Homo sapiens: one gene and its partners. The protein of the gene in region 1 interacts with the protein of each later gene in a pairwise test. Each region holds a gene or a part of one and is shown in the gene's direction. Other genes may lie near its edges.

Evidence for each region.
Region 2: the proteins of HOMEZ (region 1) and DNTTIP1 interact in binary tests that used the Homo sapiens proteins (3 or more experiments, as listed by UniProt).
Region 3: the proteins of HOMEZ (region 1) and ELOA interact in binary tests that used the Homo sapiens proteins (3 or more experiments, as listed by UniProt).
Region 4: the proteins of HOMEZ (region 1) and DEF6 interact in binary tests that used the Homo sapiens proteins (3 or more experiments, as listed by UniProt).

Annotation. Positions count from the first base shown.
Region 1 is NC_000014.9:23,271,850-23,276,287, reverse strand, and holds the end of HOMEZ (homeobox and leucine zipper protein Homez), read left to right. Parts: coding exon 1-713; 3' UTR 714-3,396; coding exon of another isoform or gene 3,397-3,465; 3' UTR 3,466-3,866; downstream 3,867-4,438. Other genes in the region: E3 ubiquitin-protein ligase RNF212B, read right to left, coding at 3,397-3,465. UniProt on the Homo sapiens protein: May function as a transcriptional regulator.
Region 2 is NC_000020.11:45,808,905-45,812,096, forward strand, and holds the end of DNTTIP1 (deoxynucleotidyltransferase terminal-interacting protein 1), read left to right. Parts: intron 1-209; coding exon 210-281; intron 282-1,980; coding exon 1,981-2,036; intron 2,037-2,152; coding exon 2,153-2,291; 3' UTR 2,292-2,514; downstream 2,515-3,192. UniProt on the Homo sapiens protein: Increases DNTT terminal deoxynucleotidyltransferase activity (in vitro). Also acts as a transcriptional regulator, binding to the consensus sequence 5'-GNTGCATG-3' following an AT-tract.
Region 3 is NC_000001.11:23,738,461-23,746,506, forward strand, and holds the start of ELOA (elongin-A), read left to right. Parts: upstream 1-5,010; 5' UTR 5,011-5,043; coding exon 5,044-5,118; intron 5,119-8,046. UniProt on the Homo sapiens protein: SIII, also known as elongin, is a general transcription elongation factor that increases the RNA polymerase II transcription elongation past template-encoded arresting sites.
Region 4 is NC_000006.12:35,300,818-35,308,044, forward strand, and holds part of DEF6 (differentially expressed in FDCP 6 homolog), read left to right. Parts: intron 1-7,227.

The DNA of each region.
Region 1 (4,438 bases):
AGTCAGTGTCACCCAGTGAACAGGCATTACCCCCACATCTGGAACCAGCCTGGCCCCAAGGGCTACGGCATAACTCAGTACCAGGTAGAGTTGGCCCCACAGAGTACCTTTCCCCAGATATGCAACGCCAGCGAAAGACCAAGCGCAAAACCAAAGAGCAGCTGGCTATCCTTAAATCCTTTTTTTTACAGTGCCAGTGGGCACGGCGTGAGGATTACCAAAAGTTAGAACAGATCACTGGTTTACCTCGGCCTGAGATCATTCAGTGGTTTGGTGACACACGCTATGCCTTGAAGCATGGGCAACTAAAGTGGTTTCGGGACAACGCAGTACCTGGTGCCCCTAGTTTCCAAGACCCAGCAATTCCTACACCACCACCATCAACCCGCTCCTTGAACGAAAGGGCTGAGACACCACCTCTGCCGATCCCTCCACCCCCACCGGATATACAACCCTTGGAGAGGTACTGGGCAGCCCACCAACAGCTACGGGAAACTGATATCCCTCAATTGAGTCAGGCATCAAGGCTTAGCACCCAGCAGGTGCTGGATTGGTTTGACTCTCGATTACCTCAGCCAGCTGAGGTGGTAGTTTGTCTAGATGAAGAAGAGGAAGAGGAGGAGGAAGAACTGCCAGAAGATGATGAGGAAGAGGAGGAGGAGGAGGAGGAAGATGATGATGATGATGATGATGATGTGATCATACAAGACTGAGTGGGGAGCTGGGGGAGGGGAGGTCTGTTACTGAAAGATGAACCAACTTAGTAACTGTTTAAACAAAGAAACCACATTTTTAAAATTACCTTGTGGCAGAGAACTAAAAAGCTTTGTGTTCTTCAGGGTGGGTGGCAGGGGGATATAGTGAGGGTGGACCAGGGAGAATGACCATAGGGCACTAAGTAAGGCTGGGATTGGATCAGCAGAAATCCAACCCTCTAACCTTAGGGTAGGGAGTGCTAAGGATCTGGGGAAACCATGGGCTGGGAAGCTGCTCTTGCTCTCCTCGTGTCTGCTGTTTTTTTCCCTTGGTGTACTATACAGAGGCCAGATGTTGGCACCACCTCTCCAGGAGGATTGGAAAGGAGGAGTAAAGGATTCTGATTTGATTGATGATTCCAGTGCATCCCCAATCCCACCATCTTACCTGGAATATAAGGCTGCCTTGTACCCCTTTTCTGAGCACAAGTCTGTGCGTAATGCAACTGACTCTCTTACTTTTTTCTTAGTAACTGATCATTTCCTAGACAACCAAGATTCTCAATAAGTCCCAGTCTCATCACAAATATTAATATTTCCTTTTCCTCATACCAACTTGACTATGTTTCACCCGCTTCATGACTAAATCACAGGTGGCAGAATTTTTCAGTTCTTTTTTTTTTTTTTGAGGTGGAGTCTTGCTCTGTCGCCCAGGCTGTAGTGCAATGGCGCAATCTCAGCTCACTGCAAGCTCCGCCTCCCAGGTTCATGCCATTCTCCTGCCTCAGCCTCCCGAGTAGCTGGGACTACAGGCACCTGCCACCACACCCGGCTACTTTTTTATATTTTTAGTAGAGACGGGTTTCATCATGTTAGCCAGGATGGTCTTGATCTCCTGACCTCATGATCCGCCCACCTTGGCCTCCCAAAGTGCTGGGATTATAGGCATGAGCCACCGTGCCCGGCTATTTTCAGTTCTTATGCTGTGACCACTTTGCCTTGTAGCTTTTTCTATCTTTCCAAAATCCTCACTCTGTTCATTGTTTGTCTCAGGGAAAATCTTCCCCCACCGAGCTTGTAAAAAACTTTAATAATTGGGTGGAGAATAATTTAGAATGGATATTTATTGGAGGTGGTAATTAGGGAAGATGTCCTTTTAAACAGTAGAATTGTGTTACAAAGGGGTGAAAGAGAGGGAATAGTTTCTCCTTGTTGAAGGGCAGTGAAGGTAGGTTTCAGGTTTGGTTTTACAAACCTGTTAACTACCTCCTGTCCAGCTTGACAGAGACTAATTTTTCATCTTTTTGCTGTCAATTTGTTTCCAGAAAAGAGACTTTTCCCTCTCTTGATAGGATCTGTCTTAGGGACAGAGGGACCATCGTCTTTAAGTGAATTAATTATTGATGTTTTAGAATGGTTTTCATCAGTTGGGATCAGCTATATGGCAAATAGGTATCATCAATGAGTTAACCATCTAAAAATAAAAGAGTGGAAGCCCTAAAATGCTAGAATAATAATAAAAAGGCCAAAAATAAAATTGTTTCTCTCTCAACCACTTTGCCACTCCTATGGTTTAGGGATTAATGGAACCAAATCCATTAACATTCTAACTCAGCATACTTTTAACTTATTGTTTGGAGGGGCAGGACTTATTGAGGTAAATTAAAAGAACAAAAACTGTAAAAAGGAAGTAGTTCAGCATCTATCGCCAGCCAGGTTGTTTCTCAGCCATCAAATGATAATGACTAAAATTTCTGAGGCTTCAGGAGTAACAGAGATACAACAGTCTTGGAGGTAACTCCATTTGCTACAGGACAGGCCCTTGCCTAAAAGAGAAGGTATCTAGAAATGCCTTTAAAATAAATTCAGAGTACCAGAAAGGGTATGGGGATCCTAGTTCAGATACAAGATCATTCCCAAGACCTAATTTATTTCTGGCAGATGCCTGCTATTTTCTGTTTTTCCAGTATTTTTGCTTAAGGCCAGCTTGTGAGTGGCTAACCTATTTAATTCGTCATTTCTGCCTTTTAAAACCCAAAGTAGAATACATGTTTGATCTCAGTGATAGTGTTGTTCGCCCATTCCACCATTCTAGAGCTTGTAAAAGTGATAGAATTGTAGCAATAAAAGGGCATCGTCTTTATTTTACTATCTATATACTAAGCTGAAAATCAGTGTCTCCAACAGTTGTTTTCAATAGAAAGGAAAATTAACATTTAATAGTAACTAAGCATAGAGGAAATAATAGACAAATAAAAAAGTATAATAAGGAAAAGAACAGAGATATTGCTCGTTAACATTGGCAATGGGACAGTATATCCAAAGCTAAAAATGAAATCCAGAAATGAAACAGTGATGAGTATATGATCCATCACAATCCCCATTCCCAACTCCCAACCAAGCATGATGCCAAGAATTATTTTTTTGACCTTTGTTCCAAATTGTAGGAAATGAGGGGAGCTACCAGTGTCTTCTGGAAGAGATATAAACATCTTCCTGAAGCACTAGCCTTTTGTAAGACCTGACCACTGTCCTGGGAGGTGATAAGGGTGAATAGGGTAAAGATGGGGGGAGCATAAGGTACAGAGTGAAACTAGGAAACAATGCAGGGATACATTTTCCAGGGCCATCACCCCTAATGCGTACTGGAAGCTACAGTCCATCCTTCAGCAGCATGTATAGATCAGATCTTGAAGATGATCTATCTAGAAGTGGTCCATGCTTCTCTCCCACTGGGTAATCCCATATGCCTCCGTTGTTGGTAGAGAGTCTGCAGCAGAGGACAAGAAGGTAGATGTGGGTGTTTATAACAGCAAAAAGGGCAAGCAAGTCTCTCTGACCTGTTGTATGAAGCTTATCGAGACAGACACCACTGCTTTTGCTTCCCCATAGTTTTCTTCATTGCATGATAACTAACTTTTCCAAACTAGGATTTGCTACATCTAGTGTGACAATCTCTGGAACATTTCAGTAGCTTATGGTGATAATAATAAGGATGAATATTTGAAAATTAAACTATTTTGGAAAATCTGGGACATATGACTACCACACCCAGAGATGACTACCAGGGAGGCAGAGTTCTTAGGCCTCTGAGGAGGTGGCATTTCCTTCAATAACTTTAAAATTTTTTCACATTTTCGGTTGTTTGTTTGTTTGTTTGTTTGTTGTTTTTTTGAGATGGAGTCTCGCTCTGTCACCCAGGCTGGAGTGCAGTGGTGCATCTCCGCTTACTGCAAGCTCCGCCTCCCGGGTTCACGCCATTCTCCTGCCTCAGCCTCCCACGTAGCTGGGACTACAGGCGCCCGCCACCATGCCCGGCTAATTTTTTGTACTTTTTTTAGTATAGACGGGGTTTCACCATGTTAGCCAGGATGGTCTCGATCTCCTGACCTCATAATCCGCCCGCCTCGGCCTCCCAAAGTGCTGGGATTACAGGCATGAGCCACCACGCCTGGCCCACATTTTCAAAAAATACATAGAATAGTATAATGAACTCATGTGCCCATTGTCCATCTTTAACAAATAATTAATGGCCAATCTTTTATTTCTACTCTCCCAGTGTCCCTCCCTACTAAATTACACTGATGCAAACGCCAGACATCATTTGACTTTCCATCCATAAATACTTTAGTATGTACCTATAAAAGAGAAAGGCTATTTTTAAAAACATAACTACGATATCATCATACCAAAAAACTCTCCAATGTTAACAATTATTTAATATCAAATGTCCAATAGATAAT
Region 2 (3,192 bases), on another chromosome or scaffold:
ATACTAAGTCTCTGGGAATTGGGTCCCATGGTCTGCCCTCGGGGTTGGCTTAGCTTTCTCTGAAGAGATTAGTGAGCCCTCTAAGTCCACCACGCTTGGAGACAAGGACTTTTGGTAAGAACTGCTCAAGGGCCAAGAGTATGCTCTGGGACCAAATGAGAAAAGCCCCTTACCCGAGGCTAATTTTCTTACAACTTCATTCCTTACAGTATGCAGCTGACCCCCAGGATAAGCACTGGCTGGCTGAGCAGCATCACATGCGGGCAACAGGGGGCAAGATGGTAAGCATTATTCATTTGTGCCACTGCCAGTGACCCACCCCACCTGGGAACCAGGATTTTGGCTGTGGGTGACAGCCTACCTCCAAATCTGACTTCCAAAGCCTCACCAATGTGTGAGAAGAGAGACTTATAAGGCCTATTTCTTCATGCTGAAGAGCAAATTGTAATCTTCAGGTTCCCTTCCCTATCCCTAGGTCTCCCTTCCGCCCCCTCACACTTTTACCTCATGCCTCCAAGATCACATATTTGGATACTATTAGCTGTCCATAGGAATAGCAGGTATAAGACACACAGTACTACTTTTTCCCACTACTGCACCCACTGACAGATTTCACTCATTGATCACTCTTCCACCAGACACAGCTATAGAATCTTTTCTCAACACAGTACTTGAGGCAGCAACCCTTGTCAGTAGGAGTTAGCAATGAAATGTGTTTGCACACTTGGCAGCCCCTTCCAGATTTACCTCTACTTGAAGAGTTCTCAGATCATATGAAACAGCAACCTTAGGAAAATCATCATTGCATGTGTTCAAAAACTATTGTTGAGGGCTTTGTCCATCACACACAATGTCCCCCACCTGAGGACTCACTCACTCCCACCACAGGTACTGCTCCTTTTAGAATCTAAGTGCCTTACAAACTGATATGCCATCTCCTTTCTGGCAGTGAGAGCTACCTTTTATTTTATTTTACTACTCTATTTATGCCTATGCTTTACTTCAAAAAAGATTTCAGGTAAGCTTCATGCACATAAAATGCAACATTACATAAATAAGAAATAGATGGTAGGGGGTGGGGGCAGGACCTAAAATTAAGCCACCAGTAAAAGTAGTTCTTTAAAAAAAAAAAGTGTTTTTTATATTGCTGACCTGGGAGACCTGTGCACTTCTACAGATGTTGGCAAATTCAGCTGTAGGCCCCACTCATGGACACCTGATCTGTTATGGTTCATAGTGCCCATAAGATGTAGACAAATTACTCAAGGAATACACAATTATTCCTGACCCTAACATTAGAAAGTCTCCCACAGAAGACTTTCTAATATGATGAATATCTCTTCCTATATGTTAAGTTCACAAAAGGGCCCTCACCCACTGTAGACCGAGGCATTGTGACAAAGCATTTCTACAGGCCCCAGTACAATACAGGCCAATTACTAGACAGCAGAGCAGTTTATCATGTTTTCCATTTTGCCACAAAGTTCAAAACCAAGTTATCTTTGTCCTCAGAGGGAGCACATGGTTTCCTCTTCCTGATTTCCTGTTTCCATATATATTTTGCTGGCTTTCTTGCCATTTTGTTATAACCCACCTTGGGTCCTTTCGTATACTTGATCTTAACCAAAAGGTGTAGGAGCAATGGTGGATCCCTTTTTTTTTCTTTTTTTCTTTTTTTTTTTTTTTTCTTAATTTTCACCACACCATTCAAGAGAGAAATGGGTCCTTTTTTAAAAGAGAAGGCTATAAATAAGTCACCAGTCCCTACTCTCCCATCCATGAAGCATCTACTGTAGTAAAAGATTGTCTCAAGGAACCATTCCCATCCCTCCCCACTTACTCTTCCGTACTAAATTGTAAACCGCATCCCCCGCTTCCACCTAGTAGCAGGCCTTACATTAAACAGATGTTTAATGAAGTGTTACTGAGTTGGAGTGAAATGAATCAGGCAATGACCACTCTCCCTTGCTCCTGCCTCAGGCCTACCTCCTCATCGAGGAGGACATCCGGGACCTTGCGGCCAGTGATGATTACAGGTAAAACCAGTGGGTCTCCTGCCCCTTCTCCTCTCCCTGCCTCCAAATAGCCCCTAGAATGAGGCAGGGCCTACATCCTCACTTCCCCCAACTTCTCTCTTCAATGTCTGTTCCAGAGGATGCCTGGATCTGAAGCTAGAGGAATTGAAATCCTTTGTCCTACCCTCCTGGATGGTGGAGAAGATGAGAAAGTATATGGAGACACTACGGACAGAGAATGAGCATCGTGCTGTTGAAGCACCTCCACAGACCTGAGGCCGGGTCCCCTGGCCACACTTGGCAGCCCTCCTCCAAAGCCCTCTTCCTCACGTGGCTGAGGCCACCGCTGGGACTGCTCCTAGATGGATCTCAGCGGCATTAAGCTGTGCCTGAGCGAGTTTGTAGTGACTCACTGCACAGCACCCCCAGACTAGCATGTGGTTCTATATTTGTAAAGTTATTGGGATAAGAAACAATTAAACAGTTTGTAGTAAACACAGATGGTGAACCTGCTGTGCCCTCTACCTTGTGGGAATTGACAGAACATCAAGGGCTCTAGAAGTGGGTGTAGGAAAAAAGGACGAGATAACCCTCACCCATAACAGTATAGAGCCAGGCTTGATAAGACCAACCTGGGAGCACCATGTACCCTGCCCGTCTTCCCTTTGCCCATTTGTAGTTTCCTTACCCAGCTAATGTAAGGACATGGCAGAATGCGATGGAGTTTGATGACAGATCATATGAAAAATAGAGTTGGCTTTTATTGCTCCCATTTTACAGGTTAAGATACTAAAGGACCCGCCCCAAGGTTACACACTACCCACTGGGGAGGTAGGATATACAGGATATGAACCTGTGTTGTTGGGGTTTTTGTTTGTTTGAAGACAGTCTTGCTCTGTTGCCCAGGCTAGAGTGCAGCCTCTGGCTCAAGCGATTCTCCCGCCTCAGCCTCGCCAGTAGCTGGGACTACAGGCTCGTGCCACCTCACCAGCCTTTTTTTTTTTTCTTTTCTTTTTTTTTTTTTTTCTTTTAAGTAGAGACAGGTCTCCCTATCCTGTTGCTCAGGCTGGTCTCGAACTCCTGGGTTCAAGTGATCCTCCTGCCTGGGCCTTCCAAAGTGTTCGGGATTACGGACGTGAGCCACTGCGACCAGCCTGAACCAATGTTGCCTTTTTTT
Region 3 (8,046 bases), on another chromosome or scaffold:
TTGGGAGGTTGAGGCAGGCGGATCACCTGAGGTCAGGAGTTCGAGACTAGCCTGGCCAACATGGTGAAACCCTGTCTCTACTAAAAATACAAAAATTAGCCAGGCGTGGTGGCACACACCTGTAATCCCAGCTACTGGGGAGGCTGAGGCAGGAGAATTGCTTGAGCCCGGGAGGCAGAGGTTGTAGTGAGCCAAGATCCTGCCAATGCACTCTAGCCTGGCTGACAGAGCGAGACTCTGTCTCAAAACAAAAACAAAAACAAAAACAAAAACAAAAACAAAAAAAACTTGCCAGATGGAGGATTTTATATCTTGCTTTACAGCAGCACATTATATTTTCTTTACCAAGGCAATGCATTTTCCCCAATAATTGCTGCCTTTTCAAAAAGACCTATTATATGCCAATTACTTGACATATTAATAAGCCTCAGGATATCTATACAGTAGGAGGAAAAAATTTCAGCAAGTTTAAGTAACTTGATCAGGAGCCATGGCTAGCATTGGTGGAATTGGGATTGGAGCCCAGGTTGTCACTAAGCTCCAAGCTTTGTTCTTTACACCACCATCCAAGCAACTTCAGATGCTGCCTACTTGCTAAGATAGAGTGGCAGACCTCTCGGCAGAAGAGGTCCAAGGAGGAAGCCCGCTTGAGCCACCATGCCTCACTTAGCACACTGTCAGGCCCGCAGAATCTTACTTGACTGTTTTATGAAAGGGCTCCTCTCTGCTATGAGGACAAGATGGTTGATTTTTTTTTTTTTTTTGAGACAGTTTCATTCTTGTTGCTCTGGCTGGAGTGCAATGGTGCAGTCTAGCTCACTGCAACCTCCATCTCCCAGGTTCAAGTGATTTTCCTGCCTCAGCCTCCCAAGTAGCTGGGATTACAGGCACCCGCCACCACACCCGGCCAATTTTTTTTTTTTTTTTTGAGACAGTTGTTGCCCAGGCTGGAGTGCAATGGCGCAGTCTCAGCTCACTGCAACCTCCGCCTCCCGGGTTCAAGTGATTTTCCTGCCTCAGCCTCCCAAGTAGCTGGGATTACAGGCACCCGCCACCACACCCGGCCAATTTTTTTTTTTTTTTTTTTTTTTGAGACAGTTGTTGCCCAGGCTGGAGTGCAATGGCGCAATCTTGGCTCACTGCAACCTCTGCCTCCTGGGTTCAAGCAATTCTCCTGCCTCTGCCTCCTGAGTACCTATGATTACAGACAGGTGCCACCACGCTGGGCTAATTTTCATGTTTTTAGTAGAGACGGGGTTTCACCATGTTGGCCAGGCTGGTCTCGAACTCCGGACCTCAGGTGATCCACCCACCTCTGCCTCCCAAAGTGCTGAGATTACAGGCATGAGCCACTGCGCCCGGCCTGAAAATTTTTTTAACTTGTCTTTCAGTGTTTTAAATCTCTCTAATGCTAGCCAGCCTAGGATTACTCTTTTCCAAAATTAAAATACCTTTAAGTTATTTTCATTATAAAAATAGACCAGACTGGGTGCAGTTGCTCATGCCTGGAATCTCAACACTTTGGGAGGCTAAGGCGGGAGGATCACTTGAGCCCAGGAGTTCAAGACCAGCGTGGGCAACCTAGTGAGACCTTTTCTCTACAAAAAATAAAAATAAAAAAATTAGCTGGGCATGGTGGCATACACCTGTAGTCCCAAGCTGAGGCAACAGGATTACTTGAGCCCAGGAGGTCAAGACTGACAGTGAGCCGTGAATGTGTCAGGGCACTCCAGCCCGGGCAACAGAGTGAGACCCTGTCTCAAAAAAAAATAAAGTAAGGGCTGGGTGCGGTGGCTCATGCCTGTAATCCCAGCACTTTGGGAGGCCGAGACGGGCGGATCACGAGGTCAGAAGATCGAGACCAGCCTGGCTAACACGGTGAAACCCCATCTCTATTAAAAATACAAAAAAAATTAGCCGGGTGTAGTGGCGGGCGCCTGTAGTCCCAGCTACTCAGGAGGCTGAGGCAGGAGAACGGCATGAACCCGGGAGGCAGAGCTTGCAGTGAGCCGAGATCGCGTCACCACTCCAGCCTGGGCGACTGAACGAGACTATACTGAGTAGACTATACTTGCTGCAAAAATTCAAAAAAGTGTACGGAGCAGATGAGAGCCTCCTTGCCCATCCTCCTCCCCTAGTATAGCCTTGAATTCATCTCCCAAACAGAATAGGATGGGTCTTTTAGTTACTCTCGCAGAGGGCTCTGTAGTGCTGATAAGAGAGCTGAGGAGCCCCTCTTAGGTTTTCAGATGACACGTCAGGCTAGCCTTATATTTAATAATTTAAATTTAATAATAATTATTTCAGTTTTCAAGAAACTTACTGAATCTCACCTATGTGCTAAATGTTGCTGATTGAAGATGGGTAAATAGCCTCTGACCTTAGGGATCTCATTCCTGTGTTGAACACTCGTGTGTAAACCAAGGGTTACAATGGTAATCCCCCAGTGAATACATACAGAGTACCAATTTTAGAAGTGGTTGAAAAGTTTTTTTAAAAAATCAGAGAATTACACATGTATAATTAGCTGCTCATCCTAGAAGTCATATATCCAGACCAGGCGTGGTGGCTCATGCCTGTAATCGCAGCACTTTGGGAGGCTGAGGCGGGTGGATCACTTGAGGTCAACAGTTCGAGACCAGCCTGGCCAATATGGTGAAACCCCGTCTCTACTAGAAATACAAAAATTAGCCGAGCGTAGTGGCGCATGCCTGTAGTCTCAGCTACTCGGGAGGCTGAGGCAGAAGAATTGCTTGAACCTGGGAGGCAGAGGTTGCAGTGAGCCCAGATCTCGCCATTGCACTCCAGCCTGGGTAACAGAGTGAGACTCTGTCTCAAAAAAAAAAAAAAAAAAAAGTCATATATCCAAATGTAAGAGTACTTTGCAGGTAAGCCTGACTCAGTCTGACATAGGGGTGGCTGTCTGGGAGCAGCACACCCACTCCAGGATCCCCCAGAAGCATTCGTTGTTTCTTTCTGTTTTTTTTTGGTTTTGTTTTTTCTGTTGCCCAGGCTGGAGCAGTGGTGCGATCATGGCTCACTGCAGTCTTGATCTCCTGGGCTCAAATGGTTCTCCTAACTCAGTCTCCCAAGTAGCTGGGACCACAGGCACGCACCACCATGCCTGGCTAATTTTAAAATTTTTGTATTTTTTGTAGAGGCTGGGTCTTACTACGTTACCCAGGCTGGTCTCAAACTCCTGGGCTCAAGCAGTCCTCCCGTCTTGACCCCCAAAGTGCTGGGATTACAGGCATGAGCCACTGTGCCCAACCTCATTGTTTCTTTTCATTTTGGTTATTGAGCTCTCTCTGGATAACATCTGCAGAATGTTTCATGTGTCCCGAGTATGTGCCAGGCCAATTACTCAGCAATTCTGCTTCAAGAATCAGTCTGTATTCCATTACACCAGTGGTACATTTTCAAAATGGAAGGAATATAAAATGTAAAAGTATTTGCTACGCAGAGGAGGGAGACACTACTGCTGGGACTAGAATCGAAGTTTTCTCACACCCAGTTCAATGCCTTTTCTACAACATCCCTCAGTTGAGCCTTAGGGTACCAAGTGGATGGTCATTAGTCTTGTATGGACTTTATATCCAATGCTGATTATAAGGTCTAGATGATGCTAGGTGGCAGAGATTCAAAGTTGGACAGGTCGGTTACTGTACTTGATAAATAAACAGCCCAGTGGCAAGACAGATAAATAAACTGACCATTTACACCCTGAAAAGGTGGTCAGTTGCTTAGGGAACTGGGGGAGGGGCGCCAAATGGAGGAGTAGGGACATGGTAGAGAGGGCTTTTCAGCATAGTGAGTGAATGAATGCTCATTTGAAGAAACAACTTGTGTTTAAGATGTTTTTCTTTCTTCCAGAGCTAGAATCTGGAAGAATCTCTGGGCTTTCCTGCTTTGAGGGAGAGATCAGGCTAGGTGCATTGCCAATTTGCTGCTGAAGATCTGATTAGGTTCTGCTTTGATGTGATCAAATGAGATGTAATCAGTGCTGGTACTTTAAGTGAGTTTGCAACTATTTAGTTGCTCTTTTTAGTAGTAGTATTAGTAATGGTAAAACTTAGTGCTTTTAGGATGAGAGTAGACGGCCTGAAGAATAATATCTTGGGCTCTTCTAATCAAGCCATACGGCTCATTGGCAAGTCATCAGAGGAAACATCTATCTATCTATACATTCATGCAATAAGTATTTATTTAGTGCCTATGTGCCAGACACTGTTTGTGGGGAAAACAAGACACATGGGCTATTATTGCCTCATGGAAGGAACTAAGCTGTTTGGATTTTGAAAAATCCCTTTCTCTGGGCCTCAATTCCTCGACCTGTTCAGAAATGTGCGCTCACAATGGTCCTAGACATCTTAGATTCAGGTTCCATTTTCAGTTCTTTCCTGTCCTGCGGCCATCTGCAAGTTAATTTGGTCTCCCTGAACCTCAGTTTCCTCATCTGTAAAATGAAGATCATACAACTCGTTTCATCAGGTTGTACTGAGGCTGGAAAAGATAGTCTAACTACTGACGCATCGTGTGCTCAGCCTAGGGTGGCTGCTACCGCGGGTGCCTGCGGACTCCTAGGACGGGCACCAGCCCGGGACCCCTGACAAGGTGTTGATTAGGGTGTGGCTAAGCCCCAGGCGGGAGAAAGCGTTGGCATTTATAAGGCCAGGGTCTGGCGCGGTGGCCTCATTCCGTCTTGAAGTAGACCCTGGAGAGGTCTTCCAGGCTTGGGCTCAGCACGCGAGCACAGGGAGCGGGGGTGCCGGCGGCGGAGGCGCGTACGGCCCGAGCAGCCCCCAGCCCCCAGCGCGCACACTTGGGCCAGGGGCGCGAGGAGTGCGCGGCCGCCGGGTGGGCGCTGGGGAGCGGGCCCTGGGGGCGGAGCCTGCAGCCCACCGCCCCCCACACACCCCAGCCGAGGCCCGGAAGGGGCCAGGCGCGCTTCCGTCTCCGCCGGGGATGCACGGAGGGCGGAGCTGCGGCCCGAGGACGCGACGCGAGCCCAGTTCCGGCGAGGAGGCCGCGCCAGTGACAGCGATGGCGGCGGAGTCGGCGCTCCAAGTTGTGGAGAAGCTGCAGGCGCGCCTGGCCGCGAACCCGGACCCTAAGAAGGTAAGCGAGGGGGCGGCGCGTAGCGGGATGGGCGTTGGGTCGGTGAGGGCCCCGTAACGGTCGCGGCCCGAGCGTGGCGGGGTTCGGGGGCTGGGACCCTGAGCCAGGCCCCGCGGGGCTGGGGTCGTGAAGTTCGCGGCCATTGACCGCTGCCCGCGCGTTGGGACCCCGTGCGTCGGGCGTCGGGACGCGGGGCCCCGGCCGCTCCCCCTCCCTCACGGGCCCGGGATGGGGGCGCGCCCGGTGCGGACACCGCGTGCCTAGCGCTTCCTCCCAGAGGCGCTCCGTGGCGTCCCGAGCCAGCTGTTTCCTGCGGGAGAGCGTGCCCGGGGCGGGAGGGCGCTGGCCGCCGCCTCGTTGGCCTCCCGGTGCCTGCGCTGGTGCCCGGCTCCCCGCGGAGCGGCGCGGACTCCCCAGCGGGTGCGTGTTCGCTGGGAGGAGAAGACGGGCGCCCGAACGCTGCGGAGCCTGGACTCGCGGTCTGGTCCGCGCCTCTCGGAGACGCGGTTACTACTCTCCGGCTGGATATCAGAGCGTGGACCTTTCGCTTTCTCAGTGAATCCCTTTCAAAACAGAATAAAGCCTCGCGTCACCTAAGCATACTCCTGAAAACTTAGGTTGGAATTGAAAAAGAGGCGGGGGCCCGGGGTTGGAAGTCGCAGCTAGGTTTCCTTTTGGCCATTAATAGGAAGGTAAGAGCTACCGTTTCTCGTTGTTCGAGTGATGGACAACCATTTTTAATTGTAGTTAACTAGTTTTTGTTGTTTATTGTACAAACTGAATATTAAGTTAAACGCGTTCTTGTACCTTTTCATCTTTCTGTCACTCACTTCTCTGGTCTCCAGGAGACAGTCTGGTGGTTGTCAGGATTTTTTTTTTTCTTTTTTTTTTTTGAGGCGAGTCTTGCTCTGGTCGCCCAGGCTGGAGTACAGTGGCGCGATCTCGGCTCACTGCAACCTCCGTCTCCCGGGTTCAGGCAATTGTCTGCCTCAGCCTCCCGAGTAGCTGGTATTGTAGGCGCCCGCCACCACGCCTGGCTAATTTTTGTATTTTTAGTAGAGACAGGGTTTCACCATCTTGGCCAGGCTGGTCTTGAACTCAGTTGTCAGGATTTTTTAAGTGGAAGTACAACGATGAAAAAGCACTTATGTGTTTGGCATTCTCCGTCATCATTCTGGCCGGGGCGGGCAGTTCTAGGAGTTGGAACTCAGTCCTGGTGGAAAAGGAAGTCGTGGAGGGAGGGCTAGGGCCGTGGGGGAACTGCTCTGCTGAGCCTCTTCCTCACCTGCTGCTTCCTAGGACTAACCTGAAAGGCTAAGGTACCAGGCTGAAAGTCAGTGCTCAGAAAACCAATCGTCATTCTTTGGGGTTTTTTTTCTTGAAGAGCCACTTTCTCTTTACCTTGTTCTAGCCTGTTGGAGGTAGGGTTTCTGCAATTCCAAAGGCCGTACACAGCCTCTCACCATCAGACCACTTTTTAAGGCTCTTCGTTCATACCTAGCTCGAAGATTCACTTCCTCAGGAAGCCATTTTAGTTACAAATCTGGGAAAACTTAAAATGCTTTCATTGTGCCATGTTTTCTGTTGCAGCTTCAGTACCGTACCTAGTGGTCAGGCATACTTACAAGTTTCTTTTTACAGTAACCCCTTGTGGACATCTAATAAATGGTCATTATTTTTTAGTACTAGTTTGTTTTCCTGAACACTGTAAGATCTGTGACTGACGTTTGATACCTTAAAGCAGTGCCATATAATAACTACCCACTATTTGTTCTTTATTTCTGTCAGATAAAAATGTTCTATGTAGTGTCTACAGTCATTTTTTTTTTAACTAGAATTTAGATTTGGAAGTAGTTTTTCTATTAGTTGATTTGCATGAAATACAAAATTAGGAAAAGGCTTATTCCACCTCAACCTAGTTGAACTATTAATGATTTTTTTTTTTTTTTGAGGATTTGGGCTCTTTCTAGATAGAAAATCACCCTGAACTTCTAGCTTTGCATTGTGAAGTGAGCATCATGAAGATGAGAAAATGTTGGGAGATCATTTTTGCAAAGGGCATAATAGTCGGCATTCAGATATGAGTTAACTGCAGAGGGAAAATTGCAAGCTGTCATGTTGGCCTTGTTCCTCTCAACCTTCTGGTAACCTAACAAGCTCCTACAGGTTGTATGTGAAATTGCAAGATGATTATATAGCCCTGTTGAATTTACAACCAGATCTTGCTTTCAAACCATTATTAGCCAAGGGTTTGATTCCACACCTGTGTTCATGGATTTTTTGGTACTAGACATTGCTGTAACTCTGTTTTCACTTTTTCATCTGTTATCTTGGCTCACTTAAGGGAGAAGGTATCAGCAGCCTAGGACCACTTGGTTTCTGTTTTTATGTTTCATAGTTCATGGCTGATAAAAATTACCTGTCCTTAGGCCGAGTGCAGTGCCTCACACCTGTAATCCCAGCACTTTGGGAGGCCGAGGTGAGTAGATCACCTGAGATCAGGAGTTCGAGACCAGCCTGGCCAACATGGTGAAACCCCTTCTCTACTAAAAGTACGAAAATTAGCCAGGTGTGGTGGCAGGCGCCTGTAATCCCAGCTGCTCGGGAGGCTGAGGCAGGAGAACACTCGAACCCGGGAGGCAGAGGTTGCAGCGAGCTGAGATCGCGCCATTGCACTCCAGCCTGGGCAACAAGAGCGAAACTCCGTCTCAAAAAAAAAAAAACAAAAAAAACACACACACACAGTTGGCCGGGCGCAGTGGCTCACGCTTGTAATCACAGCACTTTGGGAGGCCAAGAGGGGCGGATCATCTGAGGTCAAGAGTTCGAGACCAGCCTGGCCAACATGATGAAACCCCATCTCTACTAAAAATAAAAAAATTAGTTGGTCATGGTGGTGGTGCCTGTAATCCCAGCTACTCGGGAGGC
Region 4 (7,227 bases), on another chromosome or scaffold:
CCTTGGGAATGATGTGTGTCCTACTGAACACACCCTCTTACCCAGGGGAGCAGTTTTGATTTTAGAACTAGTGGAGGATCAGCTGATAATTTGGCCTCCTTCCCCACTGACTATCAGGCAGTGGGGTGAAGGGGTATGTAGATGGAGCAGTGTGTCTCTGGTTTGATGAGGATCTTTGGGTGGCACCAGGCCTACCACTTCCTCCTTGACTGGCAGGAGCTGGGGGAAGGGAGGGAGGGTAGACAGGGGCCTTCCAGTCTCCTGCACCTCCAGCTGATATTCAGGGCAGTCCTGGAGCCCAGAGTGAGACTCTTGCCCACTGAGAATCAATGAGCTTCAGGTTTTGCCTCCTCTGGAGAGGGACAACCACCTTCTCCTTAGTGGAGGAAAAGTTAAGAACAGCTCCAGTCCAAAAACCTGCTGGCTGGCTAGGATCATTAGCTTTGTCCTGACCCCTGTGTGCTACTGGTCTCCCCAGGCTAGGATTTGTGGGTAGGGAGGGGAGGATGATTTAATGATGTGCAGAGCACTTGACTCAGAACCACGCAGGCTTGGATCCGTACTGCTCCCCATCTGGGTGACTTTAAGCAAGTCACTGTCCATCTTCAGTTTCTCATCTATAAACCAGGGGGTTGATCACCAAGCTGTCCTACAAAACTAAAGAATAAATTCTGTACCTCAAGTAGGTAAAATTGGTCTATGATGCAGCCTCTCCTTTCCCTTAACTGGGCCTCTGTCTCCTTTGATGCCCACACCCAACCCCTACAGCCCCTTCTTGCTCTCAGCAGGTGACACAGCTAATCCAAAGATTCCCACCTTTTAAAATTTCCAGTGTTCCTCCATGATAGTAGTTATGCTTTTCTAGTAACCCACTAGAATACATTTGGTAACTCTTAAAAGGAGCTGTGTCTTTTTTTTTTTTTTTTTAAGACAGAGTCTTGCTCTGTCACCCAGGTTGGAGTATAGTGGTGCAATCTCAGCTCACTGCAACCTCCACCTCCCAGGTTCAAGTGATTCTCCTGCCTCAGCCTCCCAAGTAGCTGGAATCACAGGTGCCCACCACCACGCCCAGCTAATTTTTGTATTTTTAGTAGAGCCGGGGTTTTGCCATGTTGGCCAGGCTGGTCTTGAACTCCTGACCTCAGGTGATCCACCTGCCTTGGCCTCCCAAAGTGCTGGGATTACAGGCGTGAGCTACTGCACCTGGCTGGATCTGTGTCTTTTAAAAGGATCACTTGGAACCTAGATTCATTTAAAGACCTTGCTGGGCAAGGTGGCTCACATCTGTAATCCCAGCACTTTGGGAGGCCATGGCAAGAGAATCACTTGAGTCCAGGAGTTTGAGACCAGCCCTGGCAGCATAGCAAGACCCCAACTCTACAAAAAATGAAAAAAATTAGGCATGATGGCTCCTGCCTATAGTTCCTGCTACTCTGGAGGCTGAGGTGGAAGGATCGCTTGAGCCCGAGAGGTCAAGGCTTCAGTGAGCCATGGTTATACCACTGCATTCCAGCCTGGGCAATAGAGTGAGATTCTTTCTTAAAAAAAAAAAGTCAATTTAGGAGAGAATTCTTTCTGAAATCATTGCTGGGTGCTTTTATGGATTCCCAAACCCTGGGGATCCTGAAGGCTGGAAACTACAGAATCAGTTCTTGCTGACTGTTGCCAACATGGACCTGACACCCACACTTGAGTTTTTAGGATCCCCAATCCCCACACTTGAGTTTTAGAGGATCCCCCAAGTCCTGAGAGGAGAACTACTCCCCTACATGCCTCCAGAGGAAAGAGTGAATAGATGAAGCATCTCAAAGGTCAGTGACTGCCAACTCAGAGGCCAGAGGCTCCCTGGGTTTGTGGAGACTGTGGGAGTCCTCTCTGAGGAAACCCAAATGGCAACTTGTGAAAAATACACCTGGACCCCACCCCTGGAAACTCTGAGTCAGTAGGTCTGGGCTGGGCGGGCATGTTTCAGTTTCACCAGTTCTCTGGGTGATTGTGGTGCTCAGCCAGGGCCAGTGCACTGTAGAGATCAAGAGCAGGGCTTTGGAGTCAGACCTTGGGCAAGACGCTTCCTCTCTCTGAGCCTTGATTTCCTCATCTCTAAAATGAGGATAATGAGAGTCCCCTGATCCAGGGCTGAGGACTGATGGAGATCTGCAAGTGAGCTCCTGCTCACAACTCCTCTGTCACTGCCATTTCCTTTGCAGCATGACCCCTCCCCTAGTCACACCCTCTCTCCACCCCCAACCCCTACCGCACCCAGGCACAGGAAGCTGACAGTCTGAGGTCGGCCCAGCTCTCTGGAGAGAGGCCCTGAGTGTCTGGGCATTTAATTCTTCCTTGTCCTACTATCTGACAGCACGCGGGGGTCAGAGTCTCTGCCCTGGGTTCTTCAGGATCCAATGGCAAAAGTGCAGGTGAGGTGCAGGTCTTAGGGACAGTACAGGGCGACAGAACTAAGCTCAAATAACTGTGCTGTTATGTGGCAGGTTCTGTCCTGGGTCGGGGAGGGCATTCATAGGTCCTCTCCTAAGACTCCCTTTTTAGAGAGATGAAAACTGAAGCCCAGTAAGGTTAATATGCTCACTGGGATTTAGTCAATCTCTGTCTGGCTTTTGTATTTTGTCTGCTTCTTCCCATGAAGTGTTTAAGTTCATTCAAGAGATACTTAATGAGCATCCATTAGGTGCCAGGCCCCGTGATACCACAGTGAAAAAAACGCAAATGTTTCTACCCTTGTGGTGCTGACATTCTAGTCAGAGGAGGCAGATAATAAACTAAATGAAATGTACAATATGATGAAAGATGATACATGACATGGAAGAAAATAAAGCAGAAATGGGTAGGGATCATGGAGGTCAGGCAGGATTGGGTTACAGGTTTAAATAAGGTGATCAGGCCGGGCAGGGTAGCTCACACCTGTAATCTCAGCACTTTGGGAGGCTGAGGCGGGTGGATCGCTTCAGCCCAGGAATTCAAGACCAACCTGGGCAACATAGTGAAAGCCCGTCCCTACAAAAGATAGAAAAATTAGGCCCAGCACGGTGGCTCTTGCCTGTAATCCCAGCACTTTGGGAGGCCGAGGCGGGTGGATCACCTAAGTCAGGGGTTCGAGACCAGCCTGGCCAACATGTTGAAACCCCATCTCTACTAAAAATACAAAAATTAGCTGGATGTTGGTGGCAGGCACCTGTAATCCCAGCTACTCAGGAGGCTGAGGCAGGAGAATTGCTTGAACCCGGGAGGCAGAGGTTACAGGGAACTGAGATCACACCATTGCACTCCAGCCTGGGCACAAGAGCAAAACTACATTGCAAAAAAAAGAAAACACACACACACATATACACACAAAAATTAGCCGGGTGTGATGGCGCACGCCTACAGTTCCAGCTACTCAGGAGGCTGATATGGGAAGATCACCTGAGCCAGGGCGGTCGAGGCTGCAGTGAGCTGTGATTGTGCCACTACACTTCAGCCTGGGCAACAGAGTGAGACCCAGTCTCAAAAGATAAGGTGATCAGAGGATATTCCACCTGGTCAGGGAATATATATTCCCTGAGAAGGTGTCATCTAAGTAAAAACAGGGAGGAGGAAAGGGTTTGAGCCATGCAGTGACCTGGAGAGAAATATTCCAGGCTGCAGGAACAGTAAGTGCAAAGGCCCTTGGGCAAGAATATGCCTGACCTGCTGGAGGAACATTAAGAAGGCAGAATGGCTGGAGGCAAGTAAACAAGAGGGATGAGGTCAGAGAAGGTGCAGCAGGCCAGGTCACATGGGGCCTGGAGGCCTGTGGAAGGACTCGAACTTTTACTCTGAAAATTATGGGAAACCATTGGAGCATTTGAGTTAGACTTTAGGAGTCAGTCAGAAACATTCAGTGAATGGGGGACATTATACTATCTTTGGAGTCAAGGTTGAGATTAGAGTCATTGCTGCCCTCAAGGAATGTAGAACACCCAGAAATGCTCACACAAACAGTGAACAGCAAAAGAATATTATTATAGAGCAACTTAATAGGGCAAATTAATAACTGGGTTAATGGCACCCTTTTTCATCCCTATTGTTTTAAATTTTATCCTAAAGACAATATATTCTCCTGGTTTAAAAAAAGAAAACACACAGAAGAATATAATGTTAATGAAGAAATTCGGGGCTGCGCTGTGGTAGCTCATACTTGTAATCCCAACACTTTAGGAGGCCGAGGCAGGAGGATCTCTTGAGCCCAGGAGGGCTCTTCCTGCCTCGGCCTCCTAAAGCATTGGGATTACAGGTATGAGCCACCATGGCCTGGGCAATATAATGGGAACTCATCTCTATGAAAAAAAAGAATTTTTTTTTTTTTTTTCCAGACAGGGTCTGGATCTGTCACTCAGGCTGGAGTTCAGTGGCACGATCTCAGCTCACTGCAGCCTTGACTTCCTGGGCTCAAGCAATTCTCCCACCTCAGCCTCCTGAGTAGCTGGGACTACAGGAGTGTGCCGCCACACCCGGCTAATTTTGGTATTACAAAAAAATTTTTTAACTTAGCTGAGCATGGTGACACATGCCTGTAGTCCCAATTACTCGGGAGGTTGAAGTGGGAGGATCGCTTGAGCCTGGGAGGCGGAAGCTGCAGTGAGCAGAAATCGTGACACTGCACCCCAGCTTAGGCAACAGAGTGAGACCCCGTCTCTAAATAAATAAACAAAAATAAAAATGAATTTATTATAAAATTAAAACATGTTAGTGGTAATTTTTTTTTTGTGGGGGTGTGTGTGTGTATGTGTGTGTGTGACAGAGTCTCACTCTGCCACCCAGGCTGGAGTGCAGTGGCACTATCCTTCCTGGCTCACCTCAACCGCCACCTCCCAGGTTCAAGCAATTCTCCTGCCTCAGCCTCCCTGTAACTGGGATTACAGCCGCCTGCCATCACACCCAGCTAATTTTTGTATTTTTAGTAGAGATGAGGTTTCGCCATGCTGGCCAGGCTGGTGTTGAACTCCTGACCTCAAGTGATCCGCCCACCTGGGCCTCCCAAAGTGCTGGGATTACAGGTGTGAACCACTGCGCCTGGCCAAATTTGTTTTTTTGTTTTTGTTTTTGTTTTAATTTTTAGATGGAGTTTCACTCTTGTTGCCCAGGCTGGGGTGCAATGGCACAATCTCGGCTCACTGCAACCTCTGCCTCCTGGGTTCAACTGATTCTCCTGCCTCAGCCTCCCAAGTAGCTGGGATTATAGGCGCCTGCCACAATGCCTGGCTAATTTTTAGTATTTTTAGTAGAGACAGGGTTTCAACATGTTGGTCAGGTGGGTCTCGAACTCCTGACCTCAGGTGATCCACCTGCCTCGGCCTCCCAAAGTGCTGGGATTACAGGCGTGAGCCCCTGCACCCGGCCCAAAAAAATTTTGAAGTAAAGAAGAATATAATGTTGGCCGGGCGCGGTGGCTCATGCCTGTAACCCCAGCACTTTGGGAGGCCGAGGCGGGCGGAACACCTGAGGTCAGGAGTTTGAGACCAGCCTGGTCAACATGGCAAAACCCCGTCTCTACTAAAAATACAAAAATTAGCCAGGCATGGTGGCGGGCGCCTGTAATCTCAGCTCTTCGGGAAGCCGAGGAAGGAGAAGCACCTGAACCCGAGAGGCAGAGGTTGCGGTGAGCCGAGATCACGCCATTGCACTCCAGCCTGGGCAACAAGAGTGAAATTCTGTCTTAAAAAAAAAAAAAAGATGAAAGTTTCTCCCCTCACTCTGGAGAGGTGATCACTGTTAACAGTTTGTGAGTCTTCTAGATTCTTTCTGTATACAAATAAACAGGTTGAACCATATGAAATTTCTGACACTTGATTGTTTTGACCTACTGAAATACTAGTTTCATATAATTCGACCTAATCTTTGCACATGTATTTGACAAACATTTCATTCTGTAGCTTGCTTTTTTTACATGCCAGTGTAGTATGCATATCTTTCAATGTCTGTTCATATAAACATAACAAAGATCACCCACAACTTTTATTAAGCAGTGCACTATGCACCAGGTACTCTTCACTCAAAACAGCCTTTGGAGCAGACCCTATCATTATCCTCACAGAGGAGGAGACTAAGGTGTTGGAGAATTAAACATTTGCCCATGAGCACACAAGTGGGAAAAGTGAAATCTTTCCAGCTACATACAGTGGTTCCTGACATGGTATACCTGTTTCCTACTGGAAGAGCCTCAGTTTGTCTCCATTTTTTCATATTATAAACAATGCTTAATGAGCATTCTTGTATCTCTCCCATGAGTGTCTGTAGGTTGGATGATTAGAAATGCTGGGGTGGCCGGGCGCAGTGGCTCACGCCCTGTAATCCCAGCATTTTGGGAGGCCGAGGCGGGCAGATCTCCTGAGGTCAGGAGTTTGAGACCAGCCTGGCCAACATAGCGAAATTCCATCTCTACTAAAAATACAAAAATTAGCCGAGCATAGTGGCACGCGTCAGCAATCCCAGCTACTCAGGAGGCTGAGGCAGGAGAATCACGTGAACCTGGGAGGCGGAGGTTGCAGTGAGCCAACACCGCGCCACTGCGCTCTAGCCTGGGCGGCAGATTTGGAACGCGTCTCAAAAAAAGATAAGGACACGGGTAGTTTGAAAAGAGGCCAAGAGACAGCAGATGAGAATATATAAAACTTGAACACTTGTCACTTCAGAAGTGGTCAGTGGATGTTGGCATTATTCTCTTGAGGTGGTCACCCTGGGTTTTAAGTGCTAGGCATTGAGCCAGTGGCACCCCTTAGAGTGGGGATTGGTATTCTATGACCACAGATGTGTTAGGCAAGACTTTCCTGGAATTAGTGATAAAACCAAACTCAAATGGCTTAAGGGAGAGGGGATTTATTGGCTCACATAACCAAAAACTCCAGGGATAACTGCCCAGAGGGAAATGAGGGAAAAAAAGGAAATACTCCCTTCCTGGGATCTCCCACTTCCCAGTTTGCCAAGGAAAACTGAGCCCCAGGAGGACACTGAGGCAAAGTCTCAATACTTTCTCCCCCTCCTCTCTGAAAAGAGAATAAAATGAAGGCTTGGCACACACACCATCTCCGAGACAGTGCTAGCTCCTGCCTCCTAGGAACTGATTCCAAGGTGAACTGCTGGTGGTGGAAGAAGCCCTTCAATATAGCATGTATTGATTGCACTTGATGTACAAAAGAGGACATAGATGCTGAGGGACATAAAGATGAACAGAGACCTTGTCTCCAGAGTTCA